Homo sapiens: one gene and its partners. The protein of the gene in region 6 purifies or fractionates together with the protein of the main gene of each other region. This does not show direct contact. Each region holds a gene or a part of one and is shown on either strand. Other genes may lie near its edges.

What was found.
Region 1: the proteins of CACNG6 (region 6) and SLC38A3 purify together in Homo sapiens (affinity purification with mass spectrometry; one large-scale study listed by BioGRID and IntAct). This does not show direct contact.
Region 2: the proteins of CACNG6 (region 6) and SLC25A14 purify together in Homo sapiens (affinity purification with mass spectrometry; one large-scale study listed by BioGRID and IntAct). This does not show direct contact.
Region 3: the proteins of CACNG6 (region 6) and LMBRD2 purify together in Homo sapiens (affinity purification with mass spectrometry; one large-scale study listed by BioGRID and IntAct). This does not show direct contact.
Region 4: the proteins of CACNG6 (region 6) and CDS1 purify together in Homo sapiens (affinity purification with mass spectrometry; one large-scale study listed by BioGRID and IntAct). This does not show direct contact.
Region 5: the proteins of CACNG6 (region 6) and RNF121 purify together in Homo sapiens (affinity purification with mass spectrometry; one large-scale study listed by BioGRID and IntAct). This does not show direct contact.
Region 7: the proteins of CACNG6 (region 6) and PTPRA purify together in Homo sapiens (affinity purification with mass spectrometry; one large-scale study listed by BioGRID and IntAct). This does not show direct contact.

The regions. Positions count from the first base shown.
Region 1 is NC_000003.12:50,215,271-50,218,628, forward strand, and holds part of SLC38A3 (sodium-coupled neutral amino acid transporter 3), read left to right. Parts: intron 1-115; coding exon 116-189; intron 190-273; coding exon 274-366; intron 367-469; coding exon 470-551; intron 552-1,967; coding exon 1,968-2,050; intron 2,051-2,144; coding exon 2,145-2,203; intron 2,204-2,405; coding exon 2,406-2,570; intron 2,571-2,646; coding exon 2,647-2,726; intron 2,727-2,999; coding exon 3,000-3,100; exon of another isoform or gene 3,101-3,218; intron 3,219-3,322; coding exon 3,323-3,358. UniProt on the Homo sapiens protein: Symporter that cotransports specific neutral amino acids and sodium ions, coupled to an H(+) antiporter activity.
Region 2 is NC_000023.11:130,356,919-130,360,418, forward strand, and holds part of SLC25A14 (brain mitochondrial carrier protein 1 isoform 1 precursor), read left to right. Parts: intron 1-1,721; coding exon 1,722-1,817; intron 1,818-2,128; coding exon of another isoform or gene 2,129-2,257; exon of another isoform or gene 2,258-2,774; intron 2,775-3,500. UniProt on the Homo sapiens protein: Transports inorganic anions (sulfate, sulfite, thiosulfate and phosphate) and, to a lesser extent, a variety of dicarboxylates (e.g. malonate, malate and citramalate) and, even more so, aspartate and glutamate and tricarboxylates.
Region 3 is NC_000005.10:36,138,388-36,141,887, forward strand, and holds part of LMBRD2 (G-protein coupled receptor-associated protein LMBRD2), read right to left. Parts: intron 2,816-3,500; coding exon 2,720-2,815; intron 1-2,719. UniProt on the Homo sapiens protein: Recruited to ligand-activated beta-2 adrenergic receptor/ADRB2, it negatively regulates the adrenergic receptor signaling pathway. May also regulate other G-protein coupled receptors including type-1 angiotensin II receptor/AGTR1.
Region 4 is NC_000004.12:84,649,127-84,651,834, reverse strand, and holds the end of CDS1 (phosphatidate cytidylyltransferase 1), read right to left. Parts: 3' UTR 501-2,708; downstream 1-500. UniProt on the Homo sapiens protein: Catalyzes the conversion of phosphatidic acid (PA) to CDP-diacylglycerol (CDP-DAG), an essential intermediate in the synthesis of phosphatidylglycerol, cardiolipin and phosphatidylinositol.
Region 5 is NC_000011.10:71,995,046-71,998,097, reverse strand, and holds the end of RNF121 (E3 ubiquitin ligase RNF121), read right to left. Parts: intron 2,659-3,052; coding exon of another isoform or gene 2,649-2,658; coding exon 2,547-2,648; intron 1,904-2,546; coding exon 1,783-1,903; 3' UTR 501-1,782; downstream 1-500. UniProt on the Homo sapiens protein: E3 ubiquitin ligase which accepts ubiquitin and transfers it to substrates thereby promoting their degradation by the endoplasmic reticulum-associated degradation (ERAD) pathway which is a pathway involved in ubiquitin-dependent degradation of misfolded endoplasmic reticulum proteins.
Region 6 is NC_000019.10:53,990,216-53,994,436, forward strand, and holds the start of CACNG6 (voltage-dependent calcium channel gamma-6 subunit), read left to right. Parts: upstream 1-1,421; 5' UTR 1,422-2,662; coding exon 2,663-2,993; intron 2,994-4,221. UniProt on the Homo sapiens protein: Regulates the activity of L-type calcium channels that contain CACNA1C as pore-forming subunit.
Region 7 is NC_000020.11:3,019,981-3,023,480, reverse strand, and holds part of PTPRA (receptor-type tyrosine-protein phosphatase alpha isoform 1 precursor), read right to left. Parts: intron 2,173-3,500; coding exon 2,053-2,172; intron 1,428-2,052; coding exon 1,261-1,427; intron 793-1,260; coding exon 657-792; intron 1-656. UniProt on the Homo sapiens protein: Tyrosine protein phosphatase which is involved in integrin-mediated focal adhesion formation.

The DNA of each region.
Region 1 (3,358 bases), on a different chromosome or scaffold from region 6:
AGACACCCAGGTCACAGACCCTCCACCCCCAGGCCTCCCAGAGCCCCTCACCCTCTGCCAGCCACGGTAGCCCCCCAGTGGCCTCTTTTTCTTCCATCTTCCCATGTGTCCCCAGGTTCCTGTTGACAGCTGTCGCCTTGCTCTCCAGCTACTCCATCCACCTGCTACTCAAGTCCTCAGGGGTCGTGGGTGAGCCTCACACCAGCCTGGAATGGGCGGGAGCTGGTGGGTAAACTGGGACAAGCTCCTGACTTCTTGACCCTGCTCCTGCAGGCATCCGTGCCTATGAGCAGCTGGGCTACCGTGCCTTTGGGACCCCAGGAAAGCTGGCAGCAGCCCTGGCCATCACGCTCCAGAACATCGGAGGTAAGAGCAGTGGGCAGGGGCAGGCAGTAGGGAGGTGGACAGCCCTGAAAGCTGGCTGGTTGGGCTGACCTCAGCGCCTGCCTGCCCGCCCCTCTCCCCACAGCCATGTCCAGCTACCTGTACATCATCAAGTCTGAGCTGCCACTTGTCATACAGACCTTCCTGAACCTGGAGGAGAAAACCTCGTGAGCCCTGGCGTGGGGAGGGGAGGGGAGGGGTGCGGTGCAGTGAGGAGGGGTGGGGTGGGGTGGGGCTGGGTGAGGGTGGGGGGGCCCAGGCTGGGCTGGTGGGAGAGACAAGACAAAGCAGACAAGAAGCTGGTGGAGTGGGGAGAGTTGCCCGCAGAGCCAGCATTCAGTTCACACTCACTTGGGAAGCACCTTGGAGACCCCCCTCCAGAAGGGGCTTGTGGGGCTAGGGGCAGGGTGCAGCTGAGGAAGCTGGGCCTCTCCTCACCCCGGACCCAGCCTGTGAGCGTGGGAGGCTCAGGCTTAGCTCTAAGCGCCTGCTATTCCTGACCATGGGGTTGCCCCCCCCAACCAAGATATTAAGCCCAGGTGTCCCAGTTGCCTATCACTTTAGCCAGCATTGACTGGGCATCAAACGTGTTTTGTGGGACAGAGGGGACACAGCCAGGCCCTGCTCTTGACAGCCCAGCCCGAGCAAGCAGAGGGGCTGGGAGGCTGAGAGTAGCTCCGGCAAGAGGGAGAGCCAGGATTCTGCCGCTGGGGCCCTGGGCCTTTCCCAAGGAGTTGGCCTCAGGGCTTGCCTTTGAGGATGGTCCTGGCCCTTATCCCCTTGTTTCTCTGTGCCCCGTATCCATTCCTGGTGGGTAGAGGAGGGGGCCGGATGAGGCAAGGCCCAGATGCCAGAAGGAACCGCAAGGAGCACAGGTTATTGCAAGTGCCAGAAACCCCCGTGGAAAATACCACCTCCCTCTAGAACCAGGTCCCTCTTCCTCCTCCCACCCACCTCCATCCAAAGGCTGGGCCCAGACCTGTGTATCCTGAGAAAAGCAACAGCAGTGCCTACAATAGAGAGGGTCCTGAGCATGAGCTGTGTGCCAGGCTGGAACCTTAGTTCTCATGTCACCCTGAAGGACAGTACTGAAGGCACGCCCTTTGTTTTGTTTTGTTTTGTTTTGTTTTGTTTGTGAGACGGAGTCTCGCTCAGTCGCCCAGGCTGGAGTACAGTGGCACAATCTTGGCTCACTGCAACCTCTGCCTCCCGGGTTCTTGTGATTCTCCTGCCTCAGTCTCCTGAGTAGCTGAGATTATAGGCGTGTGCCACCATGCCCGGCTAATTTTTTTGTATTTTTAGTAGAGATGGGGTTTCACCATGTTGGTCAGGCTGGTCTCGAACTCCTGACCTGATGATCCACCCACCTCAGCCTCCCAAAGTGCTGGGATTACAGGCGTGAACCACCGCGCCCAGCTGGGCATGCCCATTTTGCAGATGGGGAAAGTGAGACTCAGAGCTGTGGACAAACATTCTTCAGATGTCACTCAGTGGCACCATTGGTAACTCCAGCAGAGGGAGGCAGGGGCCCCATCCCAGGCTGAATGGATTCTGACCCTGGCTCCCGACTCATGTCCCTGCAGGGACTGGTACATGAACGGGAACTACCTGGTAATCCTTGTCTCTGTCACCATCATTCTGCCCCTGGCACTGATGCGGCAGCTTGGTGAGTGTGGAAGGGTCAGAGCCTTGGAGGGGATGTTGGAGGCATACACCATGGGAGGGGCCCCAGGTCTCAGAGTGCTCCCTCCACTTTGCAGGCTACCTGGGCTACTCCAGCGGCTTCTCTCTTAGCTGCATGGTGTTCTTCCTAATTGCAGTGAGTCACCCTCCATGTTGGCTGAGAAAGCGGGCAGCGGGTCTCCTGGGGGAGTTCCCTGTCATCAGGAGGGGGCAGGTGTCTCTGGGAAGCCTGGGCCAGAAGGCAGCTCCACCAGTCCTGATCTAGATGTGGCTTCATGGTGACTTCCCAGGCAGTCCAGCCTGGGAGTCTCTGACACCCTCATCCCTCCCCACTCCAGGTCATCTACAAAAAGTTCCACGTGCCCTGCCCACTGCCCCCCAACTTCAACAACACCACAGGCAACTTCAGCCACGTGGAGATCGTGAAGGAGAAGGTGCAGCTGCAGGTCGAGCCTGAGGCTTCAGCCTTCTGCACTCCCAGCTACTTCACGCTCAACTCACAGGTTCTGACAGGTCAGGGCAAGGCGGGGGCCCAATGAGAGTGGCAGACTGCCTTGACACAGCCCCGTGTTTCCCCAGACAGCATACACCATCCCCATCATGGCCTTCGCCTTCGTCTGCCACCCCGAGGTGCTGCCCATCTATACTGAGCTCAAGGAGTAGGTGTCTGTGGCTGGGAGTGGGGGTGGGGATGCCCTGAGCTGGTTTGGGGAGAATGGATGTGGTCCTGAATGTGGAGAGGGGAGTGACAGGAGCCAAGTCACTTTATCTGAGATGTCCTTGGCAGCCATGAGAGGTGATTATGAGCAAGAAGGAGACTCCCTCAGATGCTGAATGGTGAAAGTATGGTGCCAGAGAGAGCTTGGGGCACATGGGGGTCTCCCAATGTTACCCAGCTTGTCACCAACACCCACCCCCCCACTTCCCCACAGCCCCTCCAAGAAGAAGATGCAGCACATCTCCAACCTGTCCATCGCTGTCATGTACATCATGTACTTCCTGGCTGCCCTCTTCGGCTACCTCACCTTCTACAGTACGGTGGCACCGGTGGGCAGAGGCCTAGGCTAGGCTGGGGGGAAGGGGCTGGTTGTGGCCATGGTGCCCTCCATACCGAGGCGTGTGGTGCCTGGCTGTGCCTTGCCGCTGTGGAGGTGAGTCTGCATGCCAATCCCCACAGTGTTGGGGTCCCCTAGGCAGCTCAGATCCCACCTCCTTCCTGGGGCCACCTACTGACCACCCTCCCTGCCTGCCACAGACGGGGTGGAGTCGGAGCTGCTGCACACCTACAGCA
Region 2 (3,500 bases), on a different chromosome or scaffold from region 6:
TAGTGTGTACCCCACTCCCTCAACCCATCTCCAGATGAAGCTGGAGAGATCTATCGAAATCCATATCTGATCTACTATGTACTGCTTCTTTGCCTTTGTGCACGTAACACTTTCTTCCTGAAACGTCTTTCTCATTTTCCTGGTGAATTTGTCCTTCAAGACCAGGCTCATAAACAGGGCCAGGACTAGGGCAAAACAAGTAAGGCAGTCCCCTTTGATGCAGAATGTAAGAAGGTGCCACAAAACTCAGTAATCAATATAAACAACATTTGTATGTAGTATTTTTAAACAATCAAAATTAACGCAAAAAATTCATGATGAACCAAATACCAAAATTTCACATAACTCATCTCATTCACCTTACCCTAATCCTGGCCCTGTTGAGTCCTAGCTTTAGTTAAATTTGATATTTGATTCATTATGGCTTTTTGTGGATTAATTTTGGTTAAAAAATATCATATTGAGACATCATTTATCTTGATTACTGAGTTTTTCTTGCACTCCCTTACATTTCATGCCTAAGAAAAGTACTTCACTTGCCTCACGCTAGCCCCTCTGTTGTCAGGAATCACCTCCTTAAAGAAGTGTTCTACTTACCACAGTGTATTAGTAGTTTTCATTTGTCTTTGTGATAGGTTGTATCTTGATTTAATGGGTTTAGGTTTTTATAATTATAATATTTGAAAACTCTTAGTAGTAACAGTTAACTTTCTGCATAAAAGCATGTTGCCATTACATGACTTACTAAAGACATTTGTTGAAACCTAGAATGGTAGCATGGTGCTTCATAAAAATCAGGCCTACATTTGGGCCGCTAGTATTTAGTGACTGACTACTAGGATTGTATGTGTGCAGAGTCTGTGGGAAATTGTACCAAACCTTTTACATGGCCATTTAATGCTATCTTTCCTTCTTGCAGCTCTCAAAGGCCACTTGGCAGAATATAATATTATGCTTTTTATAAATAGAACTCAACTTAAGGTCTCATAAACATAAAATTATATTTTAAAACACATTTTTCATTTTTATAATTACGTAAGCAATGCATGTTTAATGTAGAAAAATATGGAAGGCAGAAAAAACACAAAAGAGAAAAATGCTTACTTGTAGCCTCACCACTCAGACATAAACCACTGTAAGTATTTAGTTTTATATGTTCACCTCGTCTCTTTGCTGTGCTTATGGATATTTTTAAGTTTACATGTTTTTTATAAAAATGATATAGTACTTCGCAATTTTTTTTCTGGTTAGCAATTAATTTTTGATATCTTTCAGTGTCAGCAAATACCATTGTACAACAAAATTTTATGGCTCCATAGTATTCTATTAAATGAATGTATAATTTCTGTAACCAACCTGTGTAGTTGTTTTTGGATATTAAGTTGTTTCTAATTTTTCACTAAATGAGTCATTTTTTAGTCCTGCTGAGTACTTGATCTTTCTTTTCTCCAAATTTTCTTCTAGCTCCAGAAATAATAGACTTAGTGTGAGGAATGTGAGGCCGATGAAAACCATTTTTATAAAATACACTTTGACACAAATTCTTTTTCTATACAGTTTAACTAATTAACTTTATCATAATAGCAGATATTTTTCTGGGATTCCTGAATACTTCTTTTTAAATTTTAGATGAATTTAAAATGAATTTAAATGAACTTAAAATGAATTTAGCATTTTGGTTCTCTCTGACAAAATAAGATGTTCACCTCTTTTCATTTTAGATTCGAATGCAGGCTCAAGGAAGCTTGTTCCAAGGGAGCATGATTGGAAGCTTTATCGATATATACCAACAAGAAGGCACCAGGGGTCTGTGGAGGGTAAGTACTCTTTTCCTGCTATTATCCTACACTCTCAGTTCCTACAATTTGCAGAGAATTTTTTTTTATATAAAGACATAAAATCGTGAATTATAATCCAAAAACTAAGGTAAGAAACTCCTCATCTCCCTTGAAAGGCCCAAAACTTATCATTGGCCTTTTATTTCTGCATAATGTTTGGGGATTATATAGGTGGGGAAAGTTATTACATTATTTGAGATGGCTGTTTCGATCATATTCACAGTGAATGTAGTTGTTCAGTGTATTTTTTTGCAAGTTCTGTACTAACACGATGATGTATGTCTTTGTAGTGCTTATGTTCAAAAGCTGTTACCGGCTGTGTGCTGTGGCTCATGCCTGTAATCCCAGCACTTTGGGAGGCCAACGCGGGTGGATCACTTGAGGTCAGAAGTTCAAGACCAGCCTGGCCAACCTGGTGAAACCCCATCTCAACTAGAAATACAAAAATTAGCCAGGCATGGTGGTGCATGGCTGTAGTCACAGCTACTCAGGAGGCTGAGGCAGGAGAATTGTTTGAACCCTGGAGGTGGAGGTTGCAGTGAGCCAAGATCATGCCACTGCACTCCAGCCTAGGTGACAGGGCGAGACTCTGTCTCAAAAAAAAAAAAAAAAAAAAAAAGAATAAGAAAAAAAAGCTGTTACCTTAAACAATTTTTTAACCTAAAAAGTCTAACATGTACTGTAAAATATTGAGAAAATATAGAAAAGTAAAAAGAAAAAAAATCCAGTAGTCCCACTGCCTAGAGATAATTTCTGTTAAACTTTTTGTCATATTATCTTTCAGTCTTCTATCTATACTTTGCTTTTCGTCATTGTTGCTCTAACTTTTTAATCCCTAATTATTGTAATATTAATAATATTATTAGTAGAATATACAGAGAGAGTGGAATGGGAAATCTATTAATAGACTTTTAAATAAAAATGAGAGCTTTGGTATTTTTCTTTATAATTTTTCATAACAAAAATTTCAAGCATAAAGAAAAATTGAAAGAATAGAACTATGAAATACATACCTATGAGCTGGATTTGATGGCTGTTAAAGTTTGATCGTATTTGCTTTATCTGTTTACGTGTATACAGACATACACTCTTTTTAGCTAAGCTAAATGAAAGTAGGTTGCAGACATCATGGCACTCAATTAAATTCTTCATTGTGCATCTCCTAAGAATAAGGATAGTCTTCTACATAATAATAATACCATTATCATATCTAAGAAAATGAACAAGTCCCTAATACCTAATATCTAGCCCATATTAGAATTTCCTGTTAATGAGACCAGGCTAATTTATAATTTATTTTCTTCCTTCCTCCTTTTTTTTTTTTCTTTTTTTTTTTGACAGGGTCTCACTTTGTTGCCTAGGCTGGTCTTGATCTTCTGGCTTCAAGTGATCCTCTGGCCTTGGCCTTACAGATGTGAGCCACCATGCCTGGCCAGGCTAGTTTTCTTATAAAGTGTTTCCTCATTGTGTTTGTTTCTCTATCTTTATAGAGAAAATATCTTTATATTTACAGTTTATTTCCTATAAACTGTAAATAGGGTCCATTGGCTTGATTAGATTCATGTTAAACATTTTTGGTAAGGGTGCTTCATAGGTGATGCTGTGTATTTCATACTGCATCACAGCAGGAGGCACATAATATTAGTTTGTCCCATGATTAGT
Region 3 (3,500 bases), on a different chromosome or scaffold from region 6:
TACTGATACATACAGCACAGCATAGATGAATTTCCCAAATATGTGAGCAAAGAGAGATGCAAAAAAGTTCACAATGTATAATTCTATGCTTATAAAGTTCATAAACAGGCAAAAACTAATCTATGGTGACGGAAGTCAGAATCATGGTTACTTCTGGGGAGTGCGGGATGACTACACAGGGAAGCGTGAGCGAGGCTTCTGGGGGCATTGCTAATGTTCTATAACATCATCTGAGTGCTGGTGTATGGGTGTATTCACTTTGAAAAAAGTCAAACTAAACACAATCTATGCATTTTTCGGTACGAACTTATGCTTCAATTTTAAAAAGTTTCTAAAAAAATTTAGTTGTGATCAGATCAACAAGGCAGAAGCTGGAAAGGAATCTGAATTGAGAGACTTTCATTTTTGTTTGTTTTCTTTTCAAAAGATGAGAGAAATGTGCATGCTTCGTTGAAATTGAAAGCTACAAGTATGTAACAAGAGCTGAAGGGGATGGATCCATATTTTAGGAAGAAGTGATGGCAGCAGCAGCTTGTCTGGAGTGGCCCCCAGCAAAGTTGCTGGCCGCAGTGTGGGGGGACTGGCGGGGACTGTGCACTCCATGGAGCTAGCAGGAGCTGGGAAGAGGTGGGAGCCCCACCCCCTTCCGAGTTGGCGGGGCAGGAGCCCTGCTCTGGGCATAGCTGCAGCTGCCCAGCTGTGGCTGTGGACCCAGGCATCCCTGCACTTTCGGGGACCCAGAAAGCCCCCATACCCCTACAGGCTTGGAAGTACCTGCTCCTGACACCTGCTCTGATTTTGGAGAAAAGTTGTGACTGAATCCAGGCACTGTTGTAACCTAGCTGGGTGTGCACACATGCTCAGGGCAGCACTGACACCAGCCCCCGGCTGCCTCAGCCCACTCTGGACTTTGGACATCAACAAGCACAGAAGGGAGGCTGACAGTGGGGCTGAGGGCAGCTCAGCATGGGCCTGCAGGCACTGGTTGGCATGAACAGCCTGGGTGCCATAAATGACATGATTGATGGTGGCAGGAGGCAGATAGGCTCCTGGGCAGAAGTGGGCAGGTCCCCGGTGAAGCCCCACCTTCAAGCCAGGGACAGCCTGAAGCATGGAGGCCAGGCCATCAGCTCTGTGGACCAGAGTGAGAACTTAGGGTGCTTTATCCAGGTCTGCCTATGGCCCAATCAGTGCACACTTTCTCCTCTCTGAAGCCCATAAAAACCCCAGACTCAGCCCCACTTAGGTAGATGACAGGACAACCTGACTACAGATAGGAGCTATCTACTTCAGGTCTCCTCTCTACTGGGGGCTGCACAGACGATTGGGATAACCTGCCTGCAGATAGGAGCTACCCACTCTGGGGCTCCTCTCCACTGAGAGCTATACTTGTCAGGACAACCTGCCTGCAGAAAGGAGCTATCCACTTTGGGTCTCCTGAGAGTTGTACTATCACTCAATAAAGCACCTCTTCACCTTGCTCACCCTCCAGTTGTCTGCATACCTCATTCTTCCTGGATGTAGGACAAGAACTCAGGACCTGCTGAATGGCAGAACTGAAGGAGCTGAAACACAAACAGGGCTGAAACATGGCCCTGCCACTTGCCATGTTGCAGGTGACGAGAAGAGAAGAGCTGTGGCCCTTCCAGGAGCCCAGATCTAGGGGCTCCCCAAGCTAGGGCTGTGACACCCTCTTTGGAGCTCTGAGGTTTCTGGCATCTCCAAGCTTCTGGGTACCACCACATTCCTCTCATCCAGATGCAGGTGCCCACAGCAGAAGCTGCTTGCAGTGCATCTGACCCAGCCACAGGCTTTCACAGAGCCGACACCTGTGCCGATGCCTGGAGCTGCCCACCCTGCCACAGCAGCCAGCGTGTCTGGCTGTGCTCAGTGGCTGGATCCCATGCTCACTCACTCACACACCCCTCACCACTCCATGCCTGGCTCGCCCTTGGGAGTCATGAGATCAGAGCCAGGAGCATGAGCTAAGTGCAACCTGCCAGGCTGAGTAAGCGGAATAAGCCCAGCGGGCCTGAGTAAAATTCAGGCAAAGGTGCTACTGGCCATAGAGGTTTCCAGCTGGCAAAACAACACCCCTAAGGATCCTGTGACAGAAGTATTGGCTTTAACAAGCATGACTCTTCCATCTTTGGAGGGGAAAGAAAAAAAGATGGGTAGGTATGTAGATTTGTTGGTGAGAAGCTGAAAGAGCTGCCGTCTGATGACTCCTGTTTTAACTGCTGGATGGAAAGTAGTCATCTGCTAAGAGGCTAAGAGTAAAGATGATTTTGTTGTTGTTGTTAGGGAGCACAAGAGAGAAAGCCATAAAGAGGACGGAAGTTTGAAGTGAATGGAAATATTTCTTGTAGAAAATGGAAAGAAAGCAAACTAAAAAAAACAAAGAAGGAAAGTCTGGCAATGTTGAGAGCCCAGTTGAATTTAATAGACATGACTTTACAAAAGCACTACTCTGCTATGTAATTTTTCTCTTGCAATGTTCAGTGCCTCCAGTTTTAGAGTGCAGTTGTTTGCAGATCTAAGAGATGCTTAGTAGACAGTGGATAACTATGAGTTTGGAGCACAGCAGAAAGATAAAAATAATGGGTAGAAAGATTCAGAATGCATATGACACATAAATAAATTCCAAACTATATTGATTGAAAAACATTTTATTCCTTTAGCCAAAATTTTAAAAATTTTATCATTTACTGTAACTTACCATGTTAAAAATTGTGACGTCCAATACACTACCCTCCAGAAAATTGGCATGATTCCATCAGGAATGTAACTCCATGGCTTGAAACAAGGATGCTGGCTGTTGAATAAAAAGTTAAAGCCAACTAATCATAAATGACTACTTAAATGAATTATACAATTAATTTGCATGTGGCCAAGTTAATTTACATTCAGATTTTAAATTACTGACTCTAATAATCAATAACCCATAAAATTTCAAAGAAATTTTAAAATTCAAAGCTGACTGCCAAACTAAAAAAACACACAAAAGCAACAAAATAGATTGTTCTGAAAATGTCATTTAAGTTTTCAACTTTCAGTGTATTTTTAGTCATTGGGTAAAAAGAAAACTTAATGTTCAACTAATAGACTAAAAGTGCAACAATCATTAAAAGCAAATGTATTATGAAATAAAATTTCTAATGATTACCTTTAAAATACACAATCCATTTATAGGTTGGGTTTTTTTTTTTTCAGGTTATAGGGGTTGGGAGGGGAAAACATTAGGTAATTAATTCCTGAAAATTGTAATGCTAATTAAATCACTCACTATAACATAGCTTCTATGGAGATGCATGCTAGCAATTATACATAATTCTGTTTAAATTTTTGAAGACATGATGAGTCTCTGATCATAAATTCTGCCATGGAGCCATATTCCTAAGCTAGAAGGATATCCCAAGAACTTGCAACAATCTGTAGCTGCTGCTGATCTTTATCCAGTTTTTTTAATAGTGCTTCAAATGGAAGTAACACCTGCATTT
Region 4 (2,708 bases), on a different chromosome or scaffold from region 6:
GAACTCTGCAAAATAAAAGGTCTGGGGAAGGGGACAGGAGATGCCCTAGAGACAAGAGGCAATGTGTACAGCTGGGTCTTTAGACCAAGCTCCAAGCTTGTGCATTTCAGAAGCTGGAGGGCCTACAGAGAGCAGGCATCATGCCAGACACTGGGTATGCAGCGGCCAACCCAAACAGACTTCATCTGGCCTCTGCATAGCTTAAAGCTCTAGTAAGGGGCACACATCATTCAGAGATTCACAAAAATACACAGGTAATTACAAACTGTGCTAATACCATAAAAGTTCAGTACTCTTTGTATTAAGAGGACATTGCCTCTCAACAAATACAGATGTTTGGTAATCACCAGAACTTATTTTATCCCCAGCCCTGAAGATTTCACTGTAGGTGCTGGTGATGGAATAGACACGATATAATACTTACATATACCCATCATTATTTTGTAAACACTGGTTGAATATTTCTTCTCCAATGAGAAAATGGCACAACAAAGTCAAAATATGATTTGTTTCAGTTTTATTTTCCTGTCTCAGTTTCAGTAAAAGATTCAGAGAACTGATTGACACACATCATAAGCTATCACCCATATACCCTAAATATACACTGTTTATGCTTTTTCTTTTTCACGGAACAAGGTGACACTATCTTTGTTCAAACCAAAGTGAAAAGGAAGAGATACAATAATTTTAAAAAGAGGGGTGTGTGTGGTCTTTCACTCTCAGATAGTGAATGTACGTCACCACAACAAGGAAAAAGCGCTGAGGAAGAATGTGCATCCCACAGGTCAGAGAGTCAAGCAGGAAGTACCAGTAGAGCACCTCCAAATATAGCAAATTTGGAACAACTAGGCATTACTGTGAAAGAACTTCCTAGTTTTTCATTTGTCTGCCACCACATTGCTACATTGGAATTTAAGCCCTCTTCACAGTGCAAATATCAAAATGAGCCAAGTCAGGGTTTTATGGCAATCTTTTGCTAAAATATATTCTATTTTAATATACATGCTATAAAAGTATGCTAAAAAGGTCAATCGAGAGCTCCATTAAAATTAATAATTTGCTTTTTTACATATAGGATAATGTACATTCAATTCTAAAAGTATATTTGAGAAAAGCTATTACTGTGATCCCAAATATTTCTAGCTTCCTATTTTGTTTATAATAATATTGATTTTATAACACACATATTCAGTAATGCTTTCTTATAATTCTGGATTTCAATGCCTCACCAATTATTTTAAATACAAATGTGGGGGGATCTGTGTATCTCAAGGAGTTCTTACTCATGCAAACTACTGAGTTTTTAATGTAAGTTCTTATAAAATTTTCATTTTATTCTTTAAACTTTGGTAGCCTAAATTTTTTTTATGACCAACATTTGAGGCTGTAATGGGACAAATAAAAACATGAGATGTTGAAAATTAAACTTGTAGGTGGCCTGATTTTAAATGCGATCACTGCCTCCTATAATAACATTTCCAGTATCAATTTTAGATTTGTATGGATAGTGTGAGATACACTGGCTGAACACATGCAGTGATGATGAATCAATGGAGTATATGCTGGACCATAAAATGGACTCTTGGTACCGAGTGCACCTATGTCTAATCATGTGTGCATGTGAGGAGGTGCTGGCTGACTGCATCAGTGGAACCCAGGTATAACGGCAATCTTTTGTTTTAGGTATAGTAGACGGAAATATAAAATAATGGAAAGTTTTTGCTGATTTAAACAAAAATATTTACTCTTTTCATTAGCAAAACATTATTTAAAATATATCTATTTCTCCCCTCTGAACATTTAACTAGGAACACTGGGCAATTTTTGAAGGTTTAGTGCTGATTGTTTAATACAATAAATATGGCTGTGGAGAGCACACAGCAGCAGTAGCTTACATACGTCCACGGATAAGAAATTTACTCTCATCTGGTTAGTGTCCAGTCCACCAAAGGAAAGGTTTGGCATTCGTGTGCTTTTTTTTCGTGTAGGAATCAATTCTGCTTGATTTTCATTCTTGGAAGAAAAAATAATCAGCTGATATCCTCAAATTTTATGACATGATGCAAAGGAGCAAGGGGACAAAGATGACCTATGGTCAAAAAGCTGGACTGGGATCAGGTCTCCAGGCAGATCTTCCTTCTTGCGAGGTGAGTCTACAAAGGGCTGCACTAGAAGCCAGGAGTGAGGCATTGGGGACACGGGGGTGGGTTGCTCCCACTCGGGCAAGCATCTCCTGCTCTGCTGCAGCCACAACCCCGACTCACTACCCTACAGAACCATGGAAGCCAGTTCACAGGGAAACAGGGAAAAGTGAAGCACATGACGAAGAGATGGCCCAGGCCACAGGTCACCGTTTGAAGCTGCCTCCTGAGCTACTGTCCTCTGTTGAGATAATATGCGGAGGATCCGTACACTGTGTTCTTCACAGCAGAATTCTTCCTTGTTGCTCTTGAAAAGTTTTTGCGAGGTCGTGACCTTCCAAACAATTTTATCAGAAGTAGTCTGATGCCTGCTCTTTCTAACAAACCAATCATGGCAAAAATTTCAGGCTCCCTCCCCTGAATTTTGAAACTACCTAAAAGCAGAATGTTTTCCCCTGGCAAATGGTTACTTCTTTGAAAAGTAGACAATCTTTTTTTTTTTTTTTTAAATCCAACTAAGCCCTTTAGAAAGTACTCCAGACTACATGAGGAGGAAGTGCAGGAGAA
Region 5 (3,052 bases), on a different chromosome or scaffold from region 6:
GTTACACATGAAAAGAGCTTTGGACAGCCTGGCCTCGGCTTCTCACCTGAGCCTGACAGGGGGGTGGGGGGAAAAAGTAAAAGGAAGGGTGATCCCTAGGTCCTCTGACCAGCCCCATTCCCCTCTCTGAGGAGGGGAACAGCCCCACAGGTGGCATAAGCAGCAGGGTACCATGGGAAGCCACAGCTGGGGAAGAGAAGCCGAGCCTGAGTGTGGTCCTCAGGAAGGCAGGTGGTGGCGGGACACTGTCCTCAGGCAGTGAGAACATAGAGCAACCTCAGTCTGAAGGCAGGCCCAATGATGCCCCAGGCCCCCAGGCCACAGGACAGGAGCCTGGCATTCCACCACTCCTAGGGATGTCAGCAGGGGAACAGCTGGGAACAGCAGAAAGGCAGGCCCAACCACCCCCAGACCCTCAGGTCTCCGATGGGGGTTAACAAAGGCAAGACACCCCTGGGGACCCCAGGGAAAGAGGTGGGAAGAAGAAAGCAAGATAAATGTTCAGCTTTCCAACCCAGCTCATGGAGCTTTATTCAGACGGGAGTGACAACATCCTGCTTCGTTCTTGCTGCCCTTGAAGGGGCAGGCCCTACTGAGCCATATTCCCTAGAAACCCAATGCCGAAGGCCCATGTTTGACCTCCCACTTTATTCAAGTCGCCTAGGACTAGGGCTGGGGCCTTCCTAGAAGCCCCCTCTCAGAACCTGTTCTCACCCACCCACCACTCCCGTTGTCAGGCCCAGGGAGGACCCATGAATGACAAAAATCATGTAGGGATATTCCCTGGACTGGGAATCCCCTGCCAGCTTCAAGGACATATCATCTGACACAGGGAGAAGCTGACATCTGTCATATTCTTCTGCCTCACGTACACACACACACACACACACACACGCATACGCACTCTTAGGCTTTCAAGAAGGAAGTGATGTGGCAGAGTGACCGCTGGCACGTGTCACCACTCCACTGAAGGATCCACTGAAGAATGAGCTTGCACAAGGGGCCGTCAGTCATGGCTGCCAACAATTGCCCCATGGCCCAACTATATGACCTCTATTCTTGGCTGACCACAGCCCTGCCCACGGGCGAGTATCCATGGTGCTGATTCTTCCAGTTGTCCCAAAACAAATCTTCAATGAATTCTGAGGCCCCAAGGCTTCCCTTGTTGGCCAAGTCACTGATAAGGTTCCACTTGCCTCAACCAGCCTATAGCTCTTGGACAGGGGGAGACAGAGTCAGACGCAACACCTGTCCTGTGTCCCAGACAGTGGGGGAGGGAGGACACCTGGGGCCTCAGTGCTCACCCGTGGCACAAGCCTGAGTACGTTAGCTCTTCTATACTAAGTGCACCAGGCTTGAGCCCCACACAGGGAAGAAGGGAGTGGGTGGGCTGAGGCCTTCAGCTACCTGGGAGCCCAGCAGTGTTCTCGGCCAGAGATGAGAAGGCTCCTTTAAACCAAAAATGTCATGGCTCTGCCCCCACCCTGCTTAGGCAGGGAGGGTGAAGCCTGGAGGGGGGCAATTCCTATGCTCCACAATAAAAAAAGGTTTTTTAAATATATTCATCAAAATAGTTTTCTTTTAAAAAGCCCCCCACTGCTGACAGCCCCACTGGCTGGCTCTCCATCATATCCCTCCCCAGTCCGACACAGCCAGAGGGGTCCTGAGTGGCCCAAGCACCCCTTTGAGTCTTTCCCACCCAGGAGGTCTTTGTGGGCAGGGAGGAGAGTGCCCTGAGGTCCATGGCGTGTGGGGTGGGTTTTCCACTGATGCTCTTCATCACTATTCCAGGCCCAGGATGTAGTTGATGCCTTGGACTACACCAATGATGACAGGCTGCCAGGCTACCAAGTATCGAAGCCAGTCCAGCAGTTGCCCATACATGACGTGAGGCCTCTCCCAGCTGTCAGTGTGTTAAAGAAAAGAGACTCTGTGCAAGAGCTGCCAGGAGTGATCTAGCATGGGTGGTGGGGCTCCCTGGGTCTGCCCCACTTTCCAGCTGCTCCACAGCCTAGAGGAATGGAGGCTGCTTTCTGGAAGGGCCCAGCCTCACTTCCTACTCAGGCAGCCCTCCCAACTTTGCCCTCCCCCTCCTCTTCCTCCTCACAGCCTGTCTGTTGGGGTAAAGAGCTGAATGCAGAGAAGGTGGGAGGCAGATAGAGGGGACTGGTACTGGAGGCAGGGCAGCCCTGAGAGAGGTATAGAGATAAATCCTAGTTCCCCATGACTAACATGCAGGGAGGGCCTCCTGTAACACCTTCTCTAAGAAGGAACTGCCAGTGTAAGATAACACAGCCTGAGGCTGACACAAGTCTATCTATCCGTGACAATGGCTGCAAGGAGGCTGAGAATAGGCAATAATCCTAGAATAGGGAAACTGGGGTTGTATCATGGGGGCAGGACTAGCAGCTCAGCTTCCCACCATGGTTTGACATGTTCTGGTTGGGGGCAGAAGTGAGGGCCCCAGGAGGACCCAAATGCAGGTCACACTGGCCAGTACTTTCTTCCCACAGCCCACTCCCAACAACGACCCCAATAAAGGATACGGATTGCTGAACATCCTCTTGAGGTCTACCTTCTCTTTGCAGTAGGGACACGTTTGCTTCTTTCCCACGATGCACCAGCCACGGATGCAGAACTCGTGGAAGCTGAGCACCGCTGGTCAAGGGAAATGGTGAGAGCCAGGGCGGCACTCCAGCCCCAGACAGTCTTTGAAAGGTTCAAATCCTGCCTTCGCTCTTTATCAGCTCTGTAATGTTGGGCAAGTCCCTGTGTCTGAACCTGTTTCCTCACATGTGAAGTAAGGATAATGATCCCTATCTCACAAGACTGTTATGGGGCAAAATGGAGACAATACATGGCTTTCCCAACATAGGCAGAGAATGGGAGCTGGGTAAATACATGATAAATATTACAAGTGTTATTCAGAACAGAGGATGATGCTAAACTGAGGGATCCCATTAGAGGGTCCTCTTCCCCTGTGACTGGTCAGATCTCAGGTCTGCTAGCACAGCCTCACTAGCTGCAGCCTCAGGTTCCTCTCAGACCCAGC
Region 6 (4,221 bases):
GTGCTGCTTTCATTCTGTGCCCCTGACAGCCGGCCCTGCCCTGAGGCCTGCGCTTTCTCCAACATGGAAATCAGGCCTTCCATCCTTCAAGACCCAGGGTTCTGGCCCCAGTCTCCTCCCTGAGGCCCAGGACTCTGGGTCTGCCAACGCCTTGACCAGGAGTCCAGGCTCCCCGGCCCTCCTCCTCCCTCAGACCCAGGAGTCCAGGCCCAGCCCCTCCTCCCTCAGATCCAGGAGTCCAGGCCCCCTGCCCCCTCCTCCCTCAGACCCAGGAGTCCAGGCCCAGGCCTTCCTCCCTCAGACCCAGGAGCCCAGGCCCCCAGCCCCTCCTCCCTCAGACCCAGGAGCCCAGGCCCCCAGCCCCTCCTCCCTCAGACCCAGGAGCCCAGGCCCCCAGCCCCTCCTCCCTCAGACCCAGGAGTCCAGGCCCCCAGCCCCTCCTCCTTCAGACCCAGGAGTTCAGGCCCCAGTCCCTCCTCCCTCAGACCCAGAAGTCCAGGCCCCCAGCCCCTCCTCCCTCAGACTCAGGAGCCCAGGCCCCCAGCCCCTCCTCCCTCAGACCCAGGAGTCCAGGCCCCAGCCCCTCCTCCCTCAGACCCAGGAGTCCAGACCCCCAGCCCCTCCTCCCTCAGACCCAGGAGCCCAGGCCCCCAACCCCTCCTCCCTCAGACCCAGGAGTCCAGGCCCCCAGCCCCTCCTCCCTCAGACCCAGGAGTCCAGGCCCCCAGCCCCTCCTCCTTCAGACCCAGGAGTTCAGGCCCCAGTCCCTCCTCCCTCAGACCCAGAAGTCCAGGCCCCAGTCCCTCCTCCCTCAGACTCAGGAGCCCAGGCCCAGCCCCTCCTCCCTCAGACCCAGGAGTCCAGACCCCAGCCCCTCCTCCCTCAGACCCAGGAGTTCAGGCCCCCAGCCCCTCCTCCCTCAGACTCAGGAGCCCAGGACCTAGGAGACCAGGTTCCTCTCCTCTCAGATCCAAGATTCTGGGTACCCAGGCCTTCTTCCTCTACCACTCAGAAGTGGGGTACCGAGGCTTCTTCTCCCTTAGGGACCCAAGACTCCTGGCCTCAGGCCCTCCTCCCTGAGACCCGGGGCCCTGCCTCCCGCCCCTCCTCCCTGGTAACCCCAGTCAGACTTGCTGCCCCGCCCGTCTCCTGCTGCCCGGGAGACTGCGGAGCTGGGACTCTCGGCGCCGCTCTTGCCCCTTAGTGAAATGAAAGTCCCATCAGGCTCGGCCCCTTCCTCCCCGGGCGGCCTCCCTCCCCCCTTCCTCGTCCCCTTAAAACACCCGGGATCCCTATGGCAACAGGCGCCGGGCGACAGGTGCGGGTGTTATTTACGGGTCAAGCCCGAAATAGCCCCGAGGGTGGAGGGTGGAGGGTGGGGGGTGGGCGGGTGGGGACGAGGCCGGGCGCGGGCGGAGGCCAGGCCGGTGGCGGTGGCGGGCACAGCCGGACGCTTCGGAGGCAGCGCGGAGCTGGGGTCGGCGCGGGGCCGAGGCAGGAGAGCGAGAGGGGCCCCTGCTCGGGAGTCGGGGGTGGGAGCCCCGAGGGGGGGCCCTGGCCTGGGGCTGAGCCTGGCGCGAACCCGACCGGGAAGGCCCTGGGAGCCCGGGGGAGGGAGACGGACTGATCCCGAAGGGGCGCAGCGTCTCTTGCGGGTCGCGGTTGGCCTTTGAACCCTGGGGGGACTCAGTCCTGGTTTTCCGAGCCGCAGTGCGGACCACAGCCCCATAGTGTGAGCCCCAGGAGGGCCCCCGGTCCCATCTGCCCCAGCCCTCGGGGAGGCCCCGTAGCCTCCCGCCTCTGGACTCCACTCTGTCTTCCGGCCACCGGCCCCTTTTCCAGGCTCAGTAGAGACCTCGGATCTTTTCTGAATGGCAGGGGAGACCCCTATCCCCTTTTCCTGAATTCCAGCGAGGCCCAGTCCTCTTCTGAGCCCCAGCCAGGGCTCTGTTCTTCTCCTTCTGTGGATGCCGGGGTCCTACTGCCTCTCTTGAGACCCGGATTGAATTCCGACCTCCCCTTGGGAGCTTCCCGGGACCCCAGGTCTTCCTTTTCCGAATCCCAGAGGGTCCCCAAGTCCTCTGTTCTCAAACTCTGAGCCCAAGGGAACCCCGGCCACATCTCCTCCAAACACACACAGGACCTCAGGTCCCTTCCTGGGTACCCCAAACTCTTAGCCCTAGTGGGGTGCTCAGATCTCTCAGGAAAACCAGTTTCCCTTTTGTTAACCCCCCAGCGGGGACCCCAAAGCAGCCCCTTGGAGCTGCAGGGAGCTTCAGCGGGCACCAGTTCTCATTCCTCTGGAGCTCTTGGGGGGACTCCCTCCTGGGAAGCCGAATTCTATCTCTAAACCTCAGGGTGGGGGCCTTGTTTTTCCTCTGGGCCCCGTCTTCTTTGCCAAGTTCTTGAGGGCAACCTAGACCCTCCTCTGAACCCCAGAGGCTTCCCCAGCCCTGGGGATCATTTTTCTCTTCTGAACCCCAGAAGCAATCTCGACTTTCGCATTTGAGATTCCAGACAGGACTCGGCTCTCCCTCTTTCATACCCAGGGGAAACTGAGTCCCTCACCCCCTTCAAGACCCCAGGCCGCTCCTCGCTCCCGCCCCTCGAGGCCCTTCGCCGGCTCTGCCTCCTCCCCCTTCCCGACCCCACCGGCCATAAGATGATGTGGTCCAACTTCTTCCTGCAAGAGGAGAACCGGCGGCGGGGGGCCGCGGGCCGGCGGCGGGCGCACGGGCAGGGCAGGTCGGGGCTGACGCCCGAGCGCGAGGGGAAGGTGAAGCTGGCGCTGCTGCTGGCCGCCGTGGGCGCCACGCTGGCGGTGCTGTCCGTGGGCACCGAGTTCTGGGTGGAGCTCAACACCTACAAGGCCAACGGCAGCGCCGTGTGCGAAGCGGCCCACCTGGGGCTGTGGAAGGCGTGCACCAAGCGGCTGTGGCAGGCGGACGTGCCCGTGGACAGGGACACCTGCGGCCCCGCGGAGCTGCCCGGAGGTGAGCAGCCGCCGCCCCGAGCGCAGGGCTTGCGTCCCACGGACAGGGAGGGAGAGGGGCCCGTGTCCGAGGAGAAAACCCGCCCCAGGGACAAAAGCCTGAGCCCGGAGGAGACAGCTTGCCTCGCAGTAAGCGCCAGTGCCCACTTCGTCCTCTGCTCTCAGAAACTGCTGAGAGATAGAGGGATCCCCCAGATATGGCCCAGGTCCCTCACGGGCCTACCGCCAGAGAACCTGTGCCTTAGAGCTTGCTTTCCTGCTACAGACTGTACCCCAAGACCAGAATGTGCCTACAGGGAGTCTGTGCCCCCAGGCCATCCTGTACCCCCAGACCAGGCTGTGACCTGAGACCCCCTCAGACGAGTCTGTACCCCTATTCTGCACCTCTAAAGAGAGCTTGTGCCCCCGCCTACAGCCTGTGCCCCAAGACCATCCTGTACCCCGACTATCCTGTACCCCCAGATGAGCCTGTGTCCCCAGCTACAGTTTCCACCCCCAGACTAACATGCACCCCTAGACCAGTCTATACCCCCAGACCAGCCTGCATCCTTACACCAGCCTGTGCCCTCAGATCAGCCTGCACCTCCACACCAGGCTATGGTCCCAGATGATTCTATGACCCCCAAAGTCCCTGCCCCCACACAGCCAATGTTCCCAGGCATCGCTGTGTCCCCCCAGACCAGCCTACAGCTCTAGAGAGAGCCTGTGTCACTAGAAAAATCTTGCCTGTGTCCCCAGACCCAGCCTGTGATTCCAGACACAGCTGGTGTCCTCAGATAGCCTGTGCCCACCCCAGACAGCCTGCACCCTCTGGAAGTGCCTGTGCCCTGGAGACAGCCCGTGCCCACTCTGCATGTGCCCACAGACAGCCTGTGCCCATGGAGAGACAGCCTGGGTTCCTGGTGTCAGCTTCCTCTTCCCAGCCTGGAGACAGCTTGCGCTCCCATCCTGTGAGCCCTGGGGAGACAGACGCCCACCCCAAAGCAGGATCTATGCCTGTTCCCCACCTACTGCTTCCACCAAACCAAGCTCTCACCAGACGCCTCCCAACACCCGAGGGCAGACCTTGTTCCTTCCCTGCAATGTTCTTCACTTCCTGTCCTCTCGCCTCCAAATGCCCAGACTGGACATTTCAGCGTTTCTCATTTTCTCCGAGAGACATTCCCATACTCCCTCCTTTCCCAAATCATGGCTGTTTTATCCCTGGGCATGGCAGAGAGCTGTTCCAT
Region 7 (3,500 bases), on a different chromosome or scaffold from region 6:
GGTTTTCTCCTATCTCAGTAAATAGAATGTACGATCGGGTTTTACACCAAGACATTCCATTCCCAGGGACGAGCAGGAGACAGATGCCTTCCTCTTATCTTAACTCCAAAGAAGCCTTCCTCTTTCACTAATCCTCCTCAGCACAGACCCTTCCCTTCCCACGAGGGCATATCTCAGGCTATCTCAGTGGGGAGAAACTTTGGACAACACCCAGGCTTTCTTGGGCAGAGGTCCCTGCGGCCTTCCGCAGTGCATTGTGTCCCTGGGTGCTTGAGACTGGAGAACGGCGATGACTTTTACCAAGCATACTGCCTGCAAACACATTTTTAACAAAGCACATCCTGCACAGCCCTAAATCCATTAAACCTTGAGTCAATACAGCACATGTTTCTGCGAGCACAGGGTTGGGGCTAGGGTTACAGATTAACAGCATCTCAAGGCAGAAGAATTTTTCTTAGTACAGAACAAAATGGAGTTTCTCGTGTCTTCCTTTTTCTACATAGACACGGTAACAGTGTGATCTATCTTTCTTTCCCCCACAATCACACTCTATAGTAATCATTTACAATAACCTGTGAGACTGAGTGAATCCTCAATGTGGGCAGATGTTTTAGTCCTGGAACCCCCCACCCTCACCTGACCCACAGATCACTCACATCGGTTTGCACCATCTGGCAGCGCTGTGCCCGGATCCGGCTCACAAAGCCATACACGTCCACCTTCCGTTCTGTATGCATCATGTCCAGCATGGCATCAATGACGACAAAGGTACCTGTACGCCCTACACCTGCACTGTAGCCAGAGAGCAGGGGGTTATAGGGATGGCCAGCCTGCCTTGTGGGAGCAGATAGGGAGGGGCAACACAGGCAGGGGCTCTTCCTTCAGGGTCTAAATCCTAATTCTGAATGGGGTAGAGCTGGGGCTCTCCAGGAGCCAACAACTCCAGTATGTCCTGAATCCTGACCTCCAGCTAGAAGGGTCCGAAGGCTGCAAAAATACATGGCCAGCACTTGACCCAGTCTTTTGGCTTCATAGCAGGGTCTCCCAACTCCTAATCTTGGAGGACTGCCCTACCCTCCTTCCTCAAGTCATATTCTCCACCCTGCACTAGAACTTGGAGTCTCTGGCTGTTGCGCTGGTGCCCCAGTAGGTCATCTACTCTGTGCCAGCCTCCTCAGCCAGGGCCCTTGTGCTGTTCCCCTGCTCTGGCCATGGGGGCGAAATGTGGGGGTGGGGGTACAAGGGTCAGGCCACACTGACCTGCAGTGGACCACGATGGCCCCTGCATACTGAGGGTTACAGGCCTTCACCTTCTTGAGGAACTTGAGCATGCCGATCGGGGTAAAAGGCACCCCAAAGTCTGGCCAGCTGGTAAAGTGGAACTGAGTGATGAGGCGCTGTGGCTTTCTGTTGGTCATGTCGCCCACCTGTGAAGTGAGGAGATCCTGTGTGTTGGCCCTGATACCCAAGGGTGGGCAGTACCAGGGGAGGGAAGGTGACAGCTGTGGTTGTCAGTGACAATGGAAAAGTAAGTGTACCCAGGGGAGTTAGTTAACCACAGACACAAGGTCTCACAACTAGTCAGTGGCAGGGTCAGAACTAAAATGCAGTGCTCCCAGCTAAGTCCTCTTTTCGCAGTACCACACTGCCCCTTGGCTGAAGGTGACCTTTGCTCAGGTCTCCAGGGTTGCCTGGAGGGCCAGGGGCAGGCCCATCACATCCTTGATGTCAGGAGTCTTTGGAGTAGGAAAGGAGGAGAAAGGTGAGTCAAGCACCTAGGAGACTGCACTGCCTCCCCATGCTCCCTTTCCACAGTGCTTGGTCATATCTAAATGATCAGACTTCATCTCAACAGGTAATTTTTCACCAGTCATGAAAATACTGCTCCTTTAGCTTTGACAGACAAGTTCCCCTGAGCCCGGATATCTGGTTTCAGAATTCACATACTGCATACTCAGCAACTCCTGACCACAGCGGGATGATCCAGCCTGTTCCCTCTTACTGGTCAGCAGATCCAACATAAGAACTGAGAAAGGACAGAGGAGACACTACCTGCTGGATGCAGAACTTCCGTACTGTGTAGTCCACCAGGACAGTCACATCCTCTACAGACACCCGAATATTCCCATAGGTCCAGCAGCCTTGGTCTGGCCAGTACTGGGCGCACTTGCACTGGAAAGAAAAAGACATACATTCCCTGACCTTAGACCTCCTGCCCATGGCAGATGCAAAGGGCCTGGAAGGAAGAGCCCACAAAGCCCAGATTAAAGTCCCCCAGAAGGCCCTTTGACCTCTTCTCTATCTCAGTCAGTTGCACACTTACTTATTCAAATTTGCCCTTTTCTCAAGTTCCTTAGCCGCCATCCTATTGAGCACAGTCTCCTAACTTACACACAGCCCTAGCCCCATACTTCTCAATGTTTCCCACCCACACTCCCTTGGTTCAGGGCGAATCTGAAGCCATCTTACCTACAAAATCTGCACTTTCACAACATTTCAGGTCATGCTCTAGGAGAAAGCCTGTTTGAACCCCTCGAACCAGCAGTCTGCTATGAGGGGGCCACCAGGGTAGACTGATGCAGACTGTAAACCTGCCATGAGAGGCCTAGAGCTTTTTCTGTTGCCTGAGCTTTGGATAGCTTCCAAGAGCAAGAGGTTTGGTTGGAGGAAACTAACCTAAAGCCCAGCCCTAGCACTGTCTTCCCATGCCACTGTGGAGCTGTTGATCATGACACCCGATACCCTAGGATCAAGGTGACTCAAGGGCCATCCTTGAGAAACACGGTAACAAATAGGTATTCCTCGCTGGGGCTCGACCCCAGGACCCAGAATTGGCTCTGGCTGTGGCCCAGTGATAGAGCTGGTTAGGCCAGGCATGCACTTGGTAGCCACAAAAGGAAAAGGCCCAGTTAGGAGGCTGCCTCCAGGATTAGGCCAAGGCCTCAAATTCCCTTTGGCTTGCAGGGTCTCAGTTCATAAAGCTCCCTCTGCTGATCCAGGATATACCAAAGGCCTCAGCAGGTGGGGCAGAAAACCAGGGAAATAAGGAACTAGAGAAACCAGGGGAAAAAAGCTCCTCTGTGGGCCGGGCGTGGTGGCTCACGCCTATAATCCCAGCACTTTGGGAGGCCGAGGTGGGTGGATCACGAGGTCAGGAGATCGAGACCATCCTGCCTAACACAGTGAAACCCCGTCTCTACTAAAAAAAACACAAAAAATTAGCTGGGCGTGGTGGCGGGTGGTACTCGGGAGGCTGAGGCAGAAGAATGGTGTGAACCCGGGAGGCGGAGCTTGCAGTGAGCCGAGATGGCACCACTGCCCTTCAGCCTGGGCGACAGAGCGAGACTCCGTCTCAAAAAACAAAACAAAACAGCTCTCCCTCTCCCTCTCCCCACGGTCTCCCTCTCCCTCTCTTTCCACGGTCTCCCTCCGATGCCGAGCCGAAGCTGGACGGTACTGCTGCCATCTCGGCTCACTGCAACCTCCCTGCCTGATTCTCC